Linked DNA regions of Homo sapiens: region 1 is linked to region 2. The links come from fine-mapping of genetic effects on gene expression. Tissue or cell type: whole blood. Region 2 holds a variant in brackets; the other region holds the start of a gene. All regions are shown on one strand. Distances are between the middles of the regions.

The links. PIP is the estimated chance that this variant, and not a neighbour inherited with it, causes the effect.
Region 1: it holds the start of PTPA, and the variant in region 2 is fine-mapped to the expression of PTPA in whole blood (TOPMed, PIP above 0.99).

What each region holds. Positions count from the first base shown.
Region 1 is chr9:129,107,084-129,115,135 of GRCh38, forward strand. It overlaps PTPA (protein phosphatase 2 phosphatase activator), which reads left to right and starts at 4,332. Exons shown (of 10, transcript NM_178000.3): 1 at 4,332-4,548. The coding sequence starts at 4,518. It overlaps CRAT (carnitine O-acetyltransferase), which reads right to left and starts at 3,710. Exons shown (of 14, transcript NM_000755.5): 1 at 3,400-3,710; 2 at 731-994. The coding sequence starts at 3,426. RefSeq lists silencers at 3,466-3,905, 4,596-4,645 and enhancers at 4,316-4,595, 4,528-5,068.
Region 2 is chr9:129,135,615-129,143,658 of GRCh38, forward strand. PTPA (protein phosphatase 2 phosphatase activator) reads left to right here. Exons shown (of 10, transcript NM_178000.3): 7 at 857-981; 8 at 1,978-2,078; 9 at 6,831-6,938. Among named protein-coding and RNA genes, the nearest start is that of PTPA, 28 kb to the left of the region's middle. RefSeq lists enhancers at 2,874-3,501, 3,970-4,059, 4,132-4,759, 4,180-4,229, 4,520-4,679 and 4 more and a silencer at 5,280-5,329. The variant C/T (reference allele first, on the strand shown) is at 3,832.

The DNA of each region.
Region 1 (8,052 bases), 29 kb before region 2:
AGTGCAGTGGCACAATCTTGGCTCACTGCAACCTCCACCTGCCAGGTTCAAGCAATTCTCCTGCCTCAGCCTCCCCAGTATCTGGGATTACAGGTGCGTGCCACTACGCCTGGCTAATTTTTGTATTTTTAGTAGAGACAGGGTTTCATCATGTTGGCCAGGCTGGTCCCGAACTCCTGACCTTGTGATCTGCCCGCCTTGGACTCCCAAAGTGCTGGGATTATAGGTGTGAGTCACTGCATCCAGCTGCCACTTTTTAAATCTGTGTATTGAAGTATGAGATGCAAATAGAAAAGCACACCAAACATTGGTGTAGACATATTTGCCAAACTGGGTACACCTGTGTCATAGATCAGATACAGAACCTGGGCGATCGGTCACTGAGTGACACATATCCCCTGCCTGAGGCTGTCCCACCAAGCACAAGGGCATCTTCTATCTGGTTGTACCTGCCGTGCACCCCACTCCTGCCTCTGTCCTGGAACATGAAACCTTGTCCACAACCTGTATCCTGTTCATTACCTTTCTCTCCTCCCTACTTGAATGTTAGCTCCAAGGAGCTGGTGACTGTGTCCTTCTTGATCACCCAGCACCCTGCCAAGTGCCAGACACAGAGTATGTGCTCACGAAACTCTGGGCAGCAAACGAACGGCCGTGCCAGAGCAGTGGGCACTGGAGAACTGTGCATGTGCAGCCAGCAGCAGGTCACAGTGAGGATGCCCTCACTCACCCAGTTCTCCGTCTTCCTGGCCCGACGCTCCAGCCCCTTCTGCAGGCGCTCCCCTACACCTCCTGAGGCCTGAAACTCATCCACCAGCTGCTTGGTGTGGGCCCACTCCTCCTCACTCACGATGGGCTGCAGCGCCTTCAGGTAGTGGTCCAGGGACTGCTGGAGAGGGGGCACGGGCAGCCGTGGCAGTGCATCCTGGTGTGCCTTGAAGCGGCTGGAAGCCTTCATCAAGGAGAAGGGCTTCAGGAAGCCCAGAGGCTTCACCTGCAGGTAGCAGAACATCCTGTTCATTCCCTCCCCGGCTCTGGAGCCCTGGCAGCCCCAAAGCTGTAGTCCTGGGCACTTAAGTGCCCATCCCTGGGGGCAGAGACGGCCTCTTGGGTGGGGCTGGCCCTGGCCTCCCAGCCCTAGAGCTCTAGGTGTCCCCGCCTCTCTGGGGCCTGGAGATGCAGGTAGGGATGGGGGAGGGTGGGGTGTGGCCATGGTTCTTAGCAAGGCTCAGGGGAACCAAGTCAGGATGAACGGCACCTTTGGGGTGGCAGAGGTGAGGGGGACCGCCCACCTGTTGGGTTGCACAGGCCCCTCCTTTCTCACCCTGGAAGAGGAGCCAGCCAGCAGAGTGGTGACTGTCCCTCTTGGAGGTCCCCACGTCCTTTTCTCCCACCCTTTCCAGGTTGAGAAACAGAAGGGAAGAAGAGAGAATCACAGAGAGCCAGACAATGGCAGCACCTTCGGGTGAGGGGCCTTGGGCTTCCTCCTGCCTTTGAGATGGGGCAGGGGTGGGGTGAGGGCAGTGCTGTGGCGAGAGAGCCGGGTGGCCTGGCATGGAGGGTGAGAGGCGGCAGAGAGAGAAAGAGAAAGTCCAGGAGGCCCTGGAGTGGGCAGAGACAGGAGGGCCCGAGGCTGCTCTTGCAGTGGGCAGGCGAGTGGCAGGAGCTCTGTTCCATACCTTCTCTCTCTGCTGCCCGTCCTCCTCCATGGCAGGACTGAGGTTCTGGGCCCTGTCTGTCTGCCTTGGCTGGATCTCTAAGCCTAACTGTGCTACAAAGTGAGTGAGCAGAACCTAGCCAGAGGCAGCCACTTGCCTGGGCTGGAAAGAGAAGACAAGAGCCAAGATTCAGCGGGAGGCAGGTGGCAGTGGCGATGGCTGTGGTGGAATCGGGGGTTGTGGCAGTGGCAGGGGAAGCTCCTGGACTCTAGAAGCTGCTCCACCCTCCCGAGCTCCCAGAAGTAGAGGAATGGGGAGCAGGTGAGAGGGCTAGTGGGGGGGCATTCCAGTAGAAGGGAACCTGGAAAGTTCTTTCCTTTCTTCTCTGCATGGGCTCAGTGCCAGGGAGTCAGGACAAAAGGTAATAAAAAATCCACCTGTCAGAATCTGCGAAGATCGTTTTGATGAGGGAAAACTTGGCTGGAGGACAGAGACTGCCTGGCCGCTGAGGTTACACCACAGCCCTGGGATCGGTCCTGAAATTAGGGTTGGTGCAAGGGAGCAGACACCAGGAAAAGGCCATCAGTGGATGGGACAGCCAGAAGCCCTGCCTATTTCCTGTTTCTCTCCAGGACTCCTGGGACCCATCTGAGCCATCCCTCTACGAACACTCATTTTTTCCTGAGCTGTGGCTCATTCAGCTAGGGTCCAAGAGCGGAGGACTTTTGGTATGAAAAATAAACCAAAGGACACTGGGATTGGGCTGGATTTGAATGAGCAGGTCCAGGGGACTCTGGGCAAGTCCCTCCTTGCCTCAGTTTCCCTGCAGGAAGGTAACCAGTCCAGTCGGATGGTCCTGGAGGATGATCTAGAGGCTGTTTGTGGGATGGATGCAGCTTGGGAGACAGTGACAAGGGTGCGGTGGAGGCTCAGGGTGTTGCAACACCTAAAAGAGCCTCTAGGCCTGAGCCTGGATGCACCCTCCGCCCTCTGGCCCCGTAGTGTGTGTCTGAGACAGAGTGAGACACCAGCAACATATGCTTGGATCAGGGACGGAAGGGACTGAAATTAGGCTAGCATCCGGGCTGCTCACCGGGGAGGACTGAGGGGTAGATATAGCCAGGGTGGGGAAGGGGGCTAGAGGGGAGGATATAGCCAGGGTGGGGAAGGGGGCTGGAGGGAAGGATACAGCCAGGGTGGGGAAGGGGGCTGGAGGGGAGGGAGACCATGGGGCTGCCACCTGCCAGTTCTGAGGCCTTTCTAGCTTGATGCCTCCGCGTGTTTCTCTGGCCACACACAATTCCCCAGGGACCGTCTGATAAACCAAAGGAGTGTGACCAACTGGACAGGGTCGGAGGAGTGGCTCTGGCCTAAGCGTGCGACGGGTGTGTCAATCGGAGAATAACTGGGAGAGTGAGCTAGGGTCTGGATGCTCCTGGTCTCTCTCCCCTACCGGCCTGTCTCTGGGTCTAAGGGTGGGGGTGCTAACTGAAGCCGGGGTCCCCCTTGTCTTTCCTGGGTCGTTGGAACTGAATGCTCCAGGACGTGGGTTTAATCCCGCTTCTGACCTTGCGCCCCAATCTCCTGCTCTGCCAAACCTGGGACGCCCGCCTGACCCCACCCCATCAGCTGGAGGCCGGGTCGAACAGCGGCCGCAGGACGCGGTCTCCGTTCCCGGACGCAACCGCACGGCCCGCCCAGGCCGTCCAGGGCCCTCAGGCCCGGGATCCGCCGCACTCACCACGGTCCTGGCAGCGAAGGCTAACATCTTCGCTGCCCGTCCGCGGACACGCAGTCCGCTCCGCCCCACACACCGGGCAAAGTCCGCGCCGCCGCCGCCGCGGCTGGGGTCGGTGGGTCCTTGCTAGAGCCTTCGGGCCAAGGTCGCTGAGTTACAGCCGCCAGCCGGTAGAGGCAGCCCCGCGCCCACCCTCTGGGCCGAGCGGGCTGCGGGAAGGCACCCGGGGAGGAGGACTCGCGAGGCGGGGCCTGGGCCGGTAGCGGGCCCCGGGCGGGCAACGGTGCCCGGGAGGTTGGCTGTGGGGCGGGGACGGGGCATCGATGGGGCGGAGTCTCCTTGAGGAGGGACAGGAGGGGCGGGGACGGAGGGGCGGGGCGTCGCCCGGTAGCGGGTCGCAGTAGGCTGGCTGCGAGTCGGGGGCGGGACCACGGCGGGCGGGGACAGAGGGGCAGGGCCGAGGGCGAGTCATTGAGACCTGTGGAGGAGGAAGGAGGAGGTCACCGTCCAGCTGTCTCTCCCCTGTCCCCACATGTCTTCTAAGCTGTTGGAGGTAGTGGTGTGCACCTTTCCAACTCCGTCTGGTGTCCTTGAGCCTAACTCTTAGAGTGATAGGAAAACACAACCATGTTGACCGGGGAATGTCCTCTAATATTCCTTGGGTTAGGGTCAGTACCACCCACAAAGATGACAGGTGGTACTCCGGGACAGGAGACTGTCCCGGAAAAACATGGCTGAGCACAACCCAAACTTGACGCCCCGCACAATCGTGGCAGTCGCGGCGCCCGACGTTCGGGCGGCCGTGAGCGGTCCTAGCGCTTGGCGGCCGTTGGCGCGCATGCGCCCCGCGCGCCCCGCACTGACATGGCCGTCGCCCGGTTCCGCGCGTCCGCCGCGCGCCGGCCGTTAATAGGCTTGCTCCCTGAGCGCCCCGCACCGACATGGCGGCCGTCTTCGCTGTGGTGACTTTAACTCTCGGTTTTCGGTTATAGCCGGCCGGCGCTCACTTGTCTTCAGGAAGCTCGGAGCCTTTGGTGGAGCCGGGGAGAGGAAGGGTGGGTGCAAGAGTGAAAGGCGAGAGGGGACTGCAAGCATCCGGGTCGGCTCCTGGCCGGAGCAAGATGGCTGAGGGCGAGCGGCAGCCGCCGCCAGGTAAGGCCGGCGGGGCCAGGCCGGGCCGGGGTCGGGTAGGGTGGGGGCGGTGCCAGGTGTGGGAGGCTCAGGAGGGCGAGAGTCATGACACGGAGGAACTGGAGGGGCAAAAGCTGAGGGGCCCCGAGGAGGGACTGAGTTGAATGGCCTTAGGGGAGAGGTGGGTGGTGGGGCGCCGCTGGGGAGGGAACCAGGGGCTGCAAAGGGGTGGTGATTGGGGCGCAACTCTGGGTTTTGTGGGAGTCCAGGCTGCCCGAATGCTGGGTGGGCAGCGCCGTGGTCATAAGGGGGCCTTTTGCATCTCTGGGCAGCGCGTGCTTAAGTAAGCTGCTGACTCGGTGGGGAAGCTGCCAGGGAGGGGGGCGAAAGTGATTCCGGAGGCTGCCGTCTTTATTAGTCGCTGCTTAGGGGATGGGGTGGTGCTCCGTGGGCCTGCGCCCGCCTCGCCTCCAGTTTCGGCCTCCGCGTCCTGCTCACCCCTCATCCTCCTACTCTCTGGTTCCAGTGCCTGAGAATTTATTGAGGGAAACTGCCCGTGGTGTCTAAATCCCTAATTTTAAAAGGCTGGTTGTGCAAGGAGGTTAGTCTCTCCGGCATCTCCTTCGGTAACTCTTATTTACCTTGTAGCCTCTTTTTAGTTCATCTTAAATAACTGGGATGGAGGTGCTACGGAAGGATCTTAGAGACCCTTTTTGTGCAGAAGGAGAAGGCTGTTTGCCGACCTACCTTGAACTAAGAAGGACTGGCCATAGATAACTTTTACATTCCCGACAGAGGCAAATAGGTTGGCCGACCAAACACAGCTAATGTTTTGAAAGCATTTGATATTCTTGCTATCCTGTCTCCAATGTTGGGGTCCCTGGGAAGGTCTCAGGAGGGAGAAATGTTGAAAATCAGAAAAGGCATCCCCTCCATGCCCCACAAAAGAGGTGAACAAAGAGCTGGGTTCCGTTTCTTAGGACATTCAAAACCAGACATTTATTTTGTACAAAACCTCTGGGTGTGTGCCCTTAGAACAAGGATGTCCAGGCCAGGCGCGGTGGCTCATGCCCGTAATCCCAGCACTTTGGGAGGCCGAGGCGGGCTGATCACCTGAGGTCGGGAGTTCGAGACCAGCCTGACCAACATGGAGAAACTCCGTCTCTTCTAAAAATACAAAATTAGCCGGGCGTGGTGACACACGCCCGTAATCCCAACTACTAGGGAGGATGAGGCAGGAGAATCGCTTGAACCTGGGAAGCAGAGGTTGCGGTGAGCTGAGATCGCGGCATTGCACTCCAGCCTGGACAACAAGAGTGAAACTCCGTCACCCCCCAAAAAAAAAACCGGGGTGTCCACTCTTTTGGCTTCTCTAAGCCACATTGGAAGCAGAATTGTCTTGGGTCACACATAAAATACACTAACACTAACGATGGCTGATGAGCTAAAAAAAAAGTCGCAAAAAAAAAAATCTCATAATGGTTTTGTGTTTCTTTTTTTTGAGACAGTGTCTCACTCTGTCCCCCAGGCTGAAGTGCAGTGGCATGGTCTCGGCTGACTGCACCCTCTGCCTCCCGGGTTCAAGCGATTCTCCTGCCTCAGCCTCCTGAGTAGCTGGGACTACAGGTGCGCCACCATGCCTGGCTAATTTTTGTATTTTTAATAGGGACAGGGTTTCACCATATTGGCCAGGCTGGTCTCGAACTCCTGACCTCGTGATCCTCCTGCCTCGGCCTTCCAAAGTGCTGGGATTACAGGCATGAGCCACCGTGCCTGGCCTATGTTTTAAGAAAGTTTACAAATTTGTGTCCGGCTACATTCAAAGCTGTCCTGGGCTGTGGGTTGAACAAGCTAGCCTTAGAAGTTCTGGTGATGACTCCGGGCACAGTGGCTCACACCTGTAATCCCAGCACTTTGGGAGGCCGACACAGGCGGATCACTTGAGGTCAGGAGTTCGAGACCAGCCATGGCCAACATGGCAAAACCCCGTCTGTATTCAAAATACAAAAATTAGCTGGGTGTGGTGGCACACGTCTGTAATCGCAGCTACTCGGGAGGCTGAGGCAGGAGAATCACTTGAACCCAGGAGGCGGAGGTTGCAGTGAGCCGAGATTGCTCCACTGCACTCCAGCCACTGCACCCCAGCCTGGGCGAGAGAGCTAGACTCCATCTCAAAAAAGAAAAAGTTCTGGTAAGGACATCAGGAGATAGGAGATATAAGGCAACCACTGTTATCAGTGAGATGAATGTGTCCCTGAAGATGAGTGGGGGTGGGGAGTGGGAGGAGAGAGAACCTGTGCCCTGAAAGAGAGCTGTGCTCAGGGAGGTTATCCGTGGCTGGAAACAGCCAGGTCCCTGGTTGTGGTCCTTTTTTGAAATTTGAAACAGAACTTTTGGGAACAGCTGGAAAGAACTTCTTCTTTTTAGTTTTTTTTTGAGACAGAGTTTCACTTTGTCTCCCAGGCCAGGGTGCAGTGGTGCAATCTCAGCTCACTGCAACCTCCGCCTCCTGAGTTCATGCGATTCTCGTGCCTCAGCCTCCCGAGTTGCTGAGGCGCCCACCACTGTGCCGGGCTAATTTTTTGTATTTTTAGTAGAGATGGGATTTCGCCGTGTGGGCCAGGCTGGTCTCGAACTCCTGGCCTCAAGTAATTCACCCGCCTTGGCCACCCAGAGTGCTGGGATTACAGGCGTGAGCCACCGCGCCCGGCGAGAAGTTCTTAATGTAATGATGAAAACTTTGGATTTTGGAGTCATACATATCTGGCTCTGCCTGGCAAGTCACAGCTCTGTGAGCCTCAGTTACTTCTCTCTTTTTTAAAATTTCTTTTTTTTTCCCTGAGAAAAAGCCTCAGTTATTTCTTAAAATAACTATAGGCTACTATACTTTCTTCATAGAATTGTAGTATGTGTTTTATAAGATGTGTGCAAAGCATGGGACATAGTAGGCGATCAGTAAATGCTGATTGCCCTTATCTTTTTCAAAGTTTCAAAGTTGTACAGGTTGAACATGTAGACGAGTTTCAAATGGCCAATGATAATGCTATATATTATAGTCTTTGTTGGGGGGCTTAGGAAGGAACATTTCTAAAATTCTGAATGTTGATTTTATACTGTGAGGTTGTTGGGAATCCACTGTCCCTTGGAACCTATGTCTCTATAACCTGAGGCTGGAGAGACTGTGGGCGTGACCTCATTTATCACCATCCTGCCTTTGAAGGCTTGTTTCTTTGATTTGGGATTGTGTGTTCTGGCAACTTGTGTGTGTTTCATCAGTAATTTGTTATAGTGCTTCCTGGTAAGGTAGCCTTTTCCCAAACATGGACTGGCCTGAAGGCTCTCTTCCTGTGAAATATCCCGGTTAAATAATGTCAGGAGTGCCATCCCTTTTTTTATTTTTATTTTTTGAGACAGAGTCTCACTCTGTCACCCAGGCTGGAGTGCAGTAGCATGATCTTGGCTCAGTGCAACCTCCGAGGAGAGCTGTCCCTTTGCAGAGAATGGTGATCTCACACATATAAAAGG
Region 2 (8,044 bases):
ACCTGCTGCCCCACACCACCCAAGCCAGTCGCTGGGCAGCACTGATGTGGATCAGTTACCCAGAGCTCTTAAAATCCCCATTGCGGGCCCCAGTCTAGCAGTGCTGCTGCAGCAGGCCTGTGACGGAGCCCAGGAGCAGTGCTCGATGCTTCACAGGTGGTTGATATGCAGCCTCTGATAATATAGAAGGTTGGAACCAGAAGAACCTAGGAGATAACCTGCTGGGACTTGTGTTAGCTTTCAGACAGGCCAACTGAGGCTGGAGAGGCTGAGGCCCTGCCCAGGGTTTTACAAGTTGTCAGGAGTTGATGGCACCAAAACCCACCTTCCTAATCAGTGATTTTTTATTTATTTATTTGTTTATTTTTTTTGAGACAGGGTCTTGCTCTGTCGCCCAGGCTGGAGTGCAGTGGAGAGATCTCGGCTCACTGCAAGCTCTGCCTCCTGGGTTCATGCCATTCTCCTGCCTCAGCCTCCAGAGTAGCTGGGACCACAGGCGCCCACCACCACACCTGGCTGATTTTTTGGATTTTTAGTAGAGACGGGGTTTCACCGTGTTGGCCAGGATGGTCTCGATCTCCTGACCTTGTGATCCGCCTGCCTCGGCCTCCCAAAGTGCTGGGATTACAGGCGTGAGCCACCGTGCCCGGGCCCTTAATCAGTGATTTTTATGCCTTTCCTGAGCCAAAAGATGGCTGAGTGTTTGTTGGGGGAAATAAAGCTACATTATTGAAATTGAGACCAGTTAACACTCTTCAGTGGTTATTTTGGGGTCTCCTTGTGCTCCCAGTGGCCGAAAGGGTGAGACTGTCTTTTTACTTTTTGCTACCTTCCCTTTCCCTGTCCTCCTGTGCAGGTACCTTGAGGTTATGCGGAAACTCCAGAAAACATACAGGATGGAGCCAGCCGGCAGCCAGGGAGTGTGGGGTCTGGATGACTTCCAGTTTCTGCCCTTCATCTGGGGCAGTTCGCAGCTGATAGGTACTAGAGCGGGAGGTGCCTATCCCTCCACCCCCAACCAAGGCTGCGTTCTGTGGCCCTCCCCTGCCCCTCCTGCGCTCCCTCCTTCCCTTCTTCCTGCCCAGGGCAGACAGTGACAGCTTGGAAAGCAGGGCATTAGACCAGCTATTGAGGGAGGCTGTTTACTGTCGACCTTCTGCTGTGAGAGCCCGTGTGGTGGGCTGGAGGAGGCGGAGGCCAAGCGCCACCAAGATAATGGGAAGTGACATGGGCTGGAGCAAGGGCGCACGCCTGGTGCATAATGGACTGGTGTGAAATGCGCCCCAGCTCCTGGCAGCAGCTGTGGGGTTTTATGTTGAAAATGAGGGACCCTTTTGATTTGGTGACCAGTGTCATCCACTGTTATTATCGAGCTGTGTGCAAAGGGGCCCGTTAGGGAGCAGCCGCCAAGTGCTGGGTGGTGGGCCTGCTTCCTGTGGGGCTCAGAGAGGCCTGCTCTGGTGACTCCCCAACTCTTGAAGCTAGTTTTCAGGATGGGCGTAGGTGATCATCTCTATTTTGATGAAGAATGAACTGCCTACAGACTGATATTCATAAATGACCATTAGTTGTGGCCTCGGGTGCATTGCCTCCCCGAATCTTCTCAGTGACACTGCGAAGGGTCTGCCAGCATGAAGCCGGCTCTGCTGACTGGCACCTGCACCAGGCACCATACTGAGTGCTGTAGGTGTGGTAATTGTTGTCATGGCCCCTAGGAGGAGGTGCTCTTCTTGTCCCCAGTGTCCAGGTGAGGAAACTGAACCTTGGCAGGCTGAAGTCATGCGTCCAACGCCATGCAGCTAGAGCTTAGCACATTAGAATACACAAACCCAGAGTTACTTATTGCTCCTTCAAGGTGAGGTGTTGAGGGCACCACGGGCAGGACTGAGGCCCCTGGGGGGGTGTGACTGCTGGGCCGGGTTGCCCAGGTAGTCGTGGGGCCTGGTTCTGAATGCTGGGGCCCATTCCTTTTCCCAGACCACCCATACCTGGAGCCCAGACACTTTGTGGATGAGAAGGCCGTGAATGAGAACCACAAGGACTACATGTTCCTGGAGTGTATCCTGTTTATTACCGAGGTGAGGAGGAGGGGTGAGAGAGAAGCCCATGGCTGCCTCCAGGCTCAGATGAACCAAGGCTGGTGGCCTTACAGTGGATCAGAAGAGCCAGAGCTGCTGCCCAAAATGGCAGGGCCGGCCGGAGCGGGTTATTGAAAAGGAAGCACCACTGGGCCTCTTCCGAAAGAGCCGCTGCTGACTGTCAGGTCCTCCGCCCAGTTCTCCTTCAGTTTCTCCTGAACACCACAGGAGTCTTGAGATGAGGGTCTAAGACTTGGTCACTAACTGGCCTTGGTGACTGCTGCAGCAGGTCTGAAAGGGTCGGGGCGGGCGGAGGTTTGTGGGGGAGGGTCAGCATCTTTCGGTGGGGCCCCACAAGGGTCTGTAGAACCATGTGCTGTGGATGTGTAAAATGAAACCACCAGAGGAGATGGAGCGAACTTCTGGTGCAGACAGCTTTTCTGTCGAAGGGACACGTCTCTGTCAGTGCCTGAGGACGTGGGCCCGAGCAAAGTGCTGGAGTGGGAGTGCGCAGGCCTGGCCTGTGGTGGCAGTCACTGGATAGCCAGCCCCACGGCTGGGTTCTGGAACTGGAAGTTATTGTCTCACCAAGGCAGGATTCCTTGCAGTGGGCCCTGGACCACTTGTGCGAGATCTCCTAGTGTGTTTGTTAAAACGCACATTCCTGGGCCCTCCATCCCAGCTTATTGCATCAGAATCTTAGGGGACAAGAGCCAGGAACCTGCATCTAAACACACGTGCCAGGCGACTGCACAGGAAAGCTGGGGACCCTCTGCTCTCTGGACCTCTCTTGAGGGAGGTGTTAGGACTTCTCATCCTCTCTGCCATCCCCATGCCCCAGTTTCCAAAGGGCGCCCTCGCTCAGCTATCTGGAGAGGGTTTGAGAGTTCTATCCCTCCTCAGTCCCTTTCCCGACACCAGCACGGATGTCTGCTGCCTCAGTGAGGTTCCTAGCAGGCCTGTGGATGCTGGCCACGGGGGCTGCTCTCCGTCCGGGCTGTGTATTCTGAGCCCCCGACGAGGTGGAGAAAGCTGGGTTATAACCAGCAGCCTTGGCTCCAGGCTCTTCCTGGTCAACATTCGGCTCAGGCTTCTGCCAAACTCCAGAGGCCAGAGGGGAATGACACATTTTTTCCAAGTCAGCAAATGGAGCCGGGACTGACGGCTGGGCGGCCACCACTTCATTCCCGGAGATCTGCTGCCCTCAGCAGTGTGGCAGGCCCAAGGTCGGGAGGACTTGGGGGCAGCCTGGCTCACTGCCTTGAAAGCCAGTCACGCGCTGCTCTCTGTGGAGTGGAATGTGGGGGTCTGCGGAGCCCTGGGGGACCTCAGGATAAGCTGGAGGAGCAGGGTGGGAAGAAGGGTGCAGATGCCACACTGAGTTCTTGGGTGTGGCTGAAAGGCTGAGCTGTTTGGGCTCCCCCGGCGGCTGGCCAGGCCTCTGGGTCCCTGTCGGTATTCTAACTAGGAGGCATGCCAGGCCTGGCCTCCAGGATTTTGGGAATTGATTCCATGGTAAAATTTTGTCTTTAGTTGGTTGGTTGATTTTGTTGGTATAAACACCCCAAAAGCTTTTCCAAAGTTTGGGACCCAGTTCCTCCAGTAGAGGAAATCTCAAAGTAGCCACTAGGTGGCAGGAGAGGCACACTGAACTTGGAGAGGGTTTGGTGACATTTATTTGAGGCAGCAGAAGGAACAGGGAGGGGAGGGCGTGCCTAGAGTTGTTGGCTGTTCCGCACCTTCTCCACAGGTC[C/T]GGGTTTTCACTTTGGGTCTAGGCTCTTGGGCATGGTGTTCAACAGTAGACCCTAGGAGGAGTGTGCCCAGGAGCCGGGGTGGCTGCAGCAAGGGCCCATCTTGCCACGTGGCCGCTGGTTGCAGCACACGTTGTGTTGGTTCTCCAGAGCGCCCACCCTCTTCCACCTCGGAGCAGTGAGCAGCATTTTGCAGTCCCTAGTTGGTGAGTGGCCTGGCCTAGCTCACTGGGGACCTGGAGGCTTGCATGGAGTTCTGTACGCCTTGCTTGGGAAGGAGGCAGTGTTTCCTCTGGAGACCCTGGATTCACCATGGTGCTCTTTTAACTGGGAGATTAACTAAAACACCGAGAACTTGGGAGTGGAATCAGGCAGCCCTTTCAGGGTCTCATGCCAAGACTGCCCTGATACCCGTGGGCATCCTAGGTGAGGGACCCCACCTTGCAGGGCCTCTACAGCCTCTGTAAATGCAGCCCTGGCGCCTTTAAGAGCCCAGGGCAGGCAGGAAAAGAATTTCAGTTTCAATCTGGCTTCTAAATTTGGAGTTTTGGGAAGGGAGGGATCAGATTTCAGCTGGAAGGGAAGGAGCTGACAGGAAGGCGCTGTGCAGAGCCTCCCCACCCCCGCCCATCCCCCCAGTTACTGACAGAGGAGCCATTTACAAAAGGCCGATTCTCTGGGGAGTGGAGAGGCAGGAACGCAGCGTCTGTGAGTAATTTCCTGCTCAATATGGCTGCTCTGACTCACACGATTCCCCTGGGGTCACTGCGGGCTGCAGCTCGCTCGCTCATTCTGGTTCTTTCTCTTCTCCCTTTGTGGCTAGAATGAGCTAATTTTTTCTTTGTCTTCCAGCCCCGATTCCTTTTTCTCCCACTCGTCTGTTTTCCTTTGCCAGAGTTACAGGCAAAGGACTGTAACCTCCCTGAAGGACTTAGGGAGACCCTGGGGTACTGAAGGCCTGGGGGCAGCCTGCAGCCCCTCCAAAGAAACTACCTCTCTGGCCTTTCTGTGTGTAGGGGCCCAGGGCCACTGGAGCTCCAGGACATGGGCCTAGCCCTGGCTCTGCCAGAGGCCTTTTGAGGATCTGTTCTTTGGCCCTGGTAGGCGAGGCTGGCCAGGAGGCAGGGGCTCTTGTCTTCCAGTGCCCATCTGCCTGCCTTTGCCTCGGAGCCCTTGCCGGGCAGGCCCCTGGCAGACAAAGCCGACAAAGCCGACAGGGTGCCTCCTGGTTGCTTGCTCAGAGGGCCCTGTCCAGAGAGTGAAACTGGTTACACAGCTCCATGCTCCCTGAGCTTTCCTGGGCCTGGAAGTGTGCACAGGGCTGGAGCCTGCAGACTGGGGAAGGGGTGGGGTAGGGTGGGGAGGTGGGGGAGGGGCTGGGGGTGGAGTGTGGTTGAGCAGGGCAGTTGAAACAAAGCTCCCCAGAGGTGAGGCCCCTGTAGGCTCGGGGTGCCTGGCTGCCCTCCTGGAGGAGAGAGCCTGGGGTGATTCTGAGTGAAGCGAGTGGTCCAAGACAAGGCCCCCAGGGACCAGAGTGGGCTTTGTCTCTGTTGGGTGCCTCGGGCTCTTGCCTGGCTGTGGTGGAGCCTGGGAGAGAAGAGGAGGGGAGGGAGGAGCCTGTTGTCCTTGCTCCTGAACATGGGTGTTTGGATGGGCTTTTTGGGAACCTGGGCCAGGGGAGGGAAATGAGGGGGATAAAATGACAGGTTTTTTTTGACTTAAATCTTAAAAGTTTTGTCACAGTTGCCCTTACTAGAGAAGTAAGAGGCCTGCCAGGAGTGGGTCACCAGGTGGCAGCCCATGGCTCAAGAGTGGGGGCTCCTGAGGGCTCTTGTGGTGAACTGATGCCCCTTTTTGGAGAGCGTTTCTGGCTTATCTTTTCTCCTTCAAAAAATAACCCAGTCTCCCCTGACACCCGCATGTTTCTAGAACCTTCCAAGTCTCTGTTTCTTTGCCAGATTCAGCCTCTTTGCAGAGTCTTCCTTCTGCAGCATGGGTCTGGGGTACAGAGCCCTGTTCCCCTGTAAATGCTGCCTATGAGCTGGGGGGCTGTGTCGAGGGGAATTATGAACTGCTTGGTTAATAAATACAAATGTGCTGGACTTGCGGTGTCAGGGGGATATGCTCAGGCACACAGGCGTCCCTCTGTGGTTTCTGACGTCATGGGAACTTCATGCTGGCTGCAGAATCTTTCTCTTCCGTCCTGGAGGGTCAGACTCTTTGGCAAGAGGGAGGACCAGGAATGGAGCCGTCCTTGTGCCTGCCTCTTTCAGCTGCTGTGGCGGCCACCCCTTCCCCACCTCCTGGCCAGGCCAGGCTGGCTGCTGCTTCAGGCACCCCTGCCTCCCATCGGCCCTCTCTTCCCTGCCTGCATGGCAGGCAGAGGGCTGTCGGATACCTGGGTTTGGTCATACCCACCTTGGTCCTCTTGCAAATTGACCCTTTCCTCATCTCTTCTAGCTCTGCTGGTGGCAGGTGCAGACCACGTGTCCTGTGGGGGGGCCTGGGGGAGAGGGGGTGGGCCTGGAGGGGTGGGGCCTAGCTGCTGCTGCTATTTATCTGAACCCAAGTGAATCCCTGTGCTGGAGAGGCGCTCTGAGGCTCCTGGGGAGTCGGTGGGAACGACACCAGAAGCTCAGGTGGAGATCTTATCTTCCTGAGGCTGCTGGATTTGGTGGGCGATAGGAATCAGGCCCCCTTTTTTTGGCTGTGGGAGAAAGAGGGGTGACTGCGGGTAGGTGGGCAAGGAATGTTATATTTTCCTAGCAGGCCTTGAGGGCCAAAGGGGAACCTTGTCTCTGGCACTTGCATGTGCCTGTTTGTATGTTTGCCCCTCAGGCAGATGCTATAGCTTGGTCCCCAAGTGTCTGCGCGTGCATTGTGTGCGTGTGCGTTTGTGTGTGTGTGTGTGTGCATGCATGGGTGTGACTTTGCTGCAGGGGAGGAGGGATGAGCTCCCAGCCAGAACCTGTCTCTTCAGCTTGTGGCTTCTCTTTTTCAGATGAAGACTGGCCCATTTGCAGAGCACTCCAACCAGCTGTGGAACATCAGCGCCGTCCCTTCCTGGTCCAAAGTGAACCAGGGTCTCATCCGCATGTATAAGGCCGAGGTGAGTGGGGGCTGGCCAGTGTGCCCGTCCCTGCTGCCGCACTTGGTCCTGGGCTGGGGACAAAGCAAAAGATGTGGAACCTGGGGCTCCTGCTTCCTCCTACCCCACTGTTTTGCTCTGAATCTTAGGCCAGCCCCTCTGACACTTGGGGCCTCGGAATCTCCCATCTGGGGCATGGGCAGTCAGAGAAGCACCAGCCACCCCAGCCCCGAAAAGCTGCAGTCCAGCTCTGTCCTGATGAGCTTGGAGGCTGAGGCAAGGACCTGCTGCATGGGGAGTGGGGGCGATGGGGGCCTCCCTTCTCCTTTATCAAGTGGCCAAAGGCTCCTCAAAGCTCGGGCAGTCTGAGTCTGGCTCTCCCATGGCATACCTGGGAAGGGTCTTACCCTTTGGAGGCATCTCCAAAGTGCTGCCTTCAAATGTTAGTGTGTATGATCACTGAGTGGTGGGAGGTCTGAGGGTAGGCCGAGAATTGGCATTTTTATGGACCGCTTCAGGGATTTTGATGCAAATGGTTTTCCCTGCTCTCAAATCAGATGCTGAGGAGAGGAGAGCTGAGGCTTCCTGGAGCTCCCCCTGCTGGCAGGCAGCCGAGGGTGTCTCCTGCCCTCTTGGCACTGTTCTCCCAGCCAAGGAGGTGGCCTTTTCTCTCTTCCAAGTGGGGAGGAGACATTTTATTTCTACTCTGTCCCTTCTGCTAGCTCCTCCCACTTCCTGGGAAGACTAATTCTAGAACTGCTTGACCTTGGCCAGGGAAGGGCTGGATGTGAAGTTCCACACCTGGAGTGATGGGTCCTTAAAGTCCCTTCTTTCTGTTCTCAGGCTGGCCCTTGTGACTAGTTCATGGCCTCAGACACTGTACTGTGGGCACCATCTCTTGACTCCTGGCCGGCCTTCTCTTCTGGGAAGGGGCTGCTCCAGGTCTTCATTGGACCCAGAGCTTCCTGGATCCCATCAGCAGAGGCGGGACAACGGGGAAGGGTGCCAGAGGCCAGCGGGGTGGGGGAGCACAGATGCTTCCAGTTGGCTTGGCTCCCTGCACTTGGTCCTGAAGGGGTTAATGAGGCTTGAACTGAACAGACCGGGCCCTCACTCCCTTCCGCCCC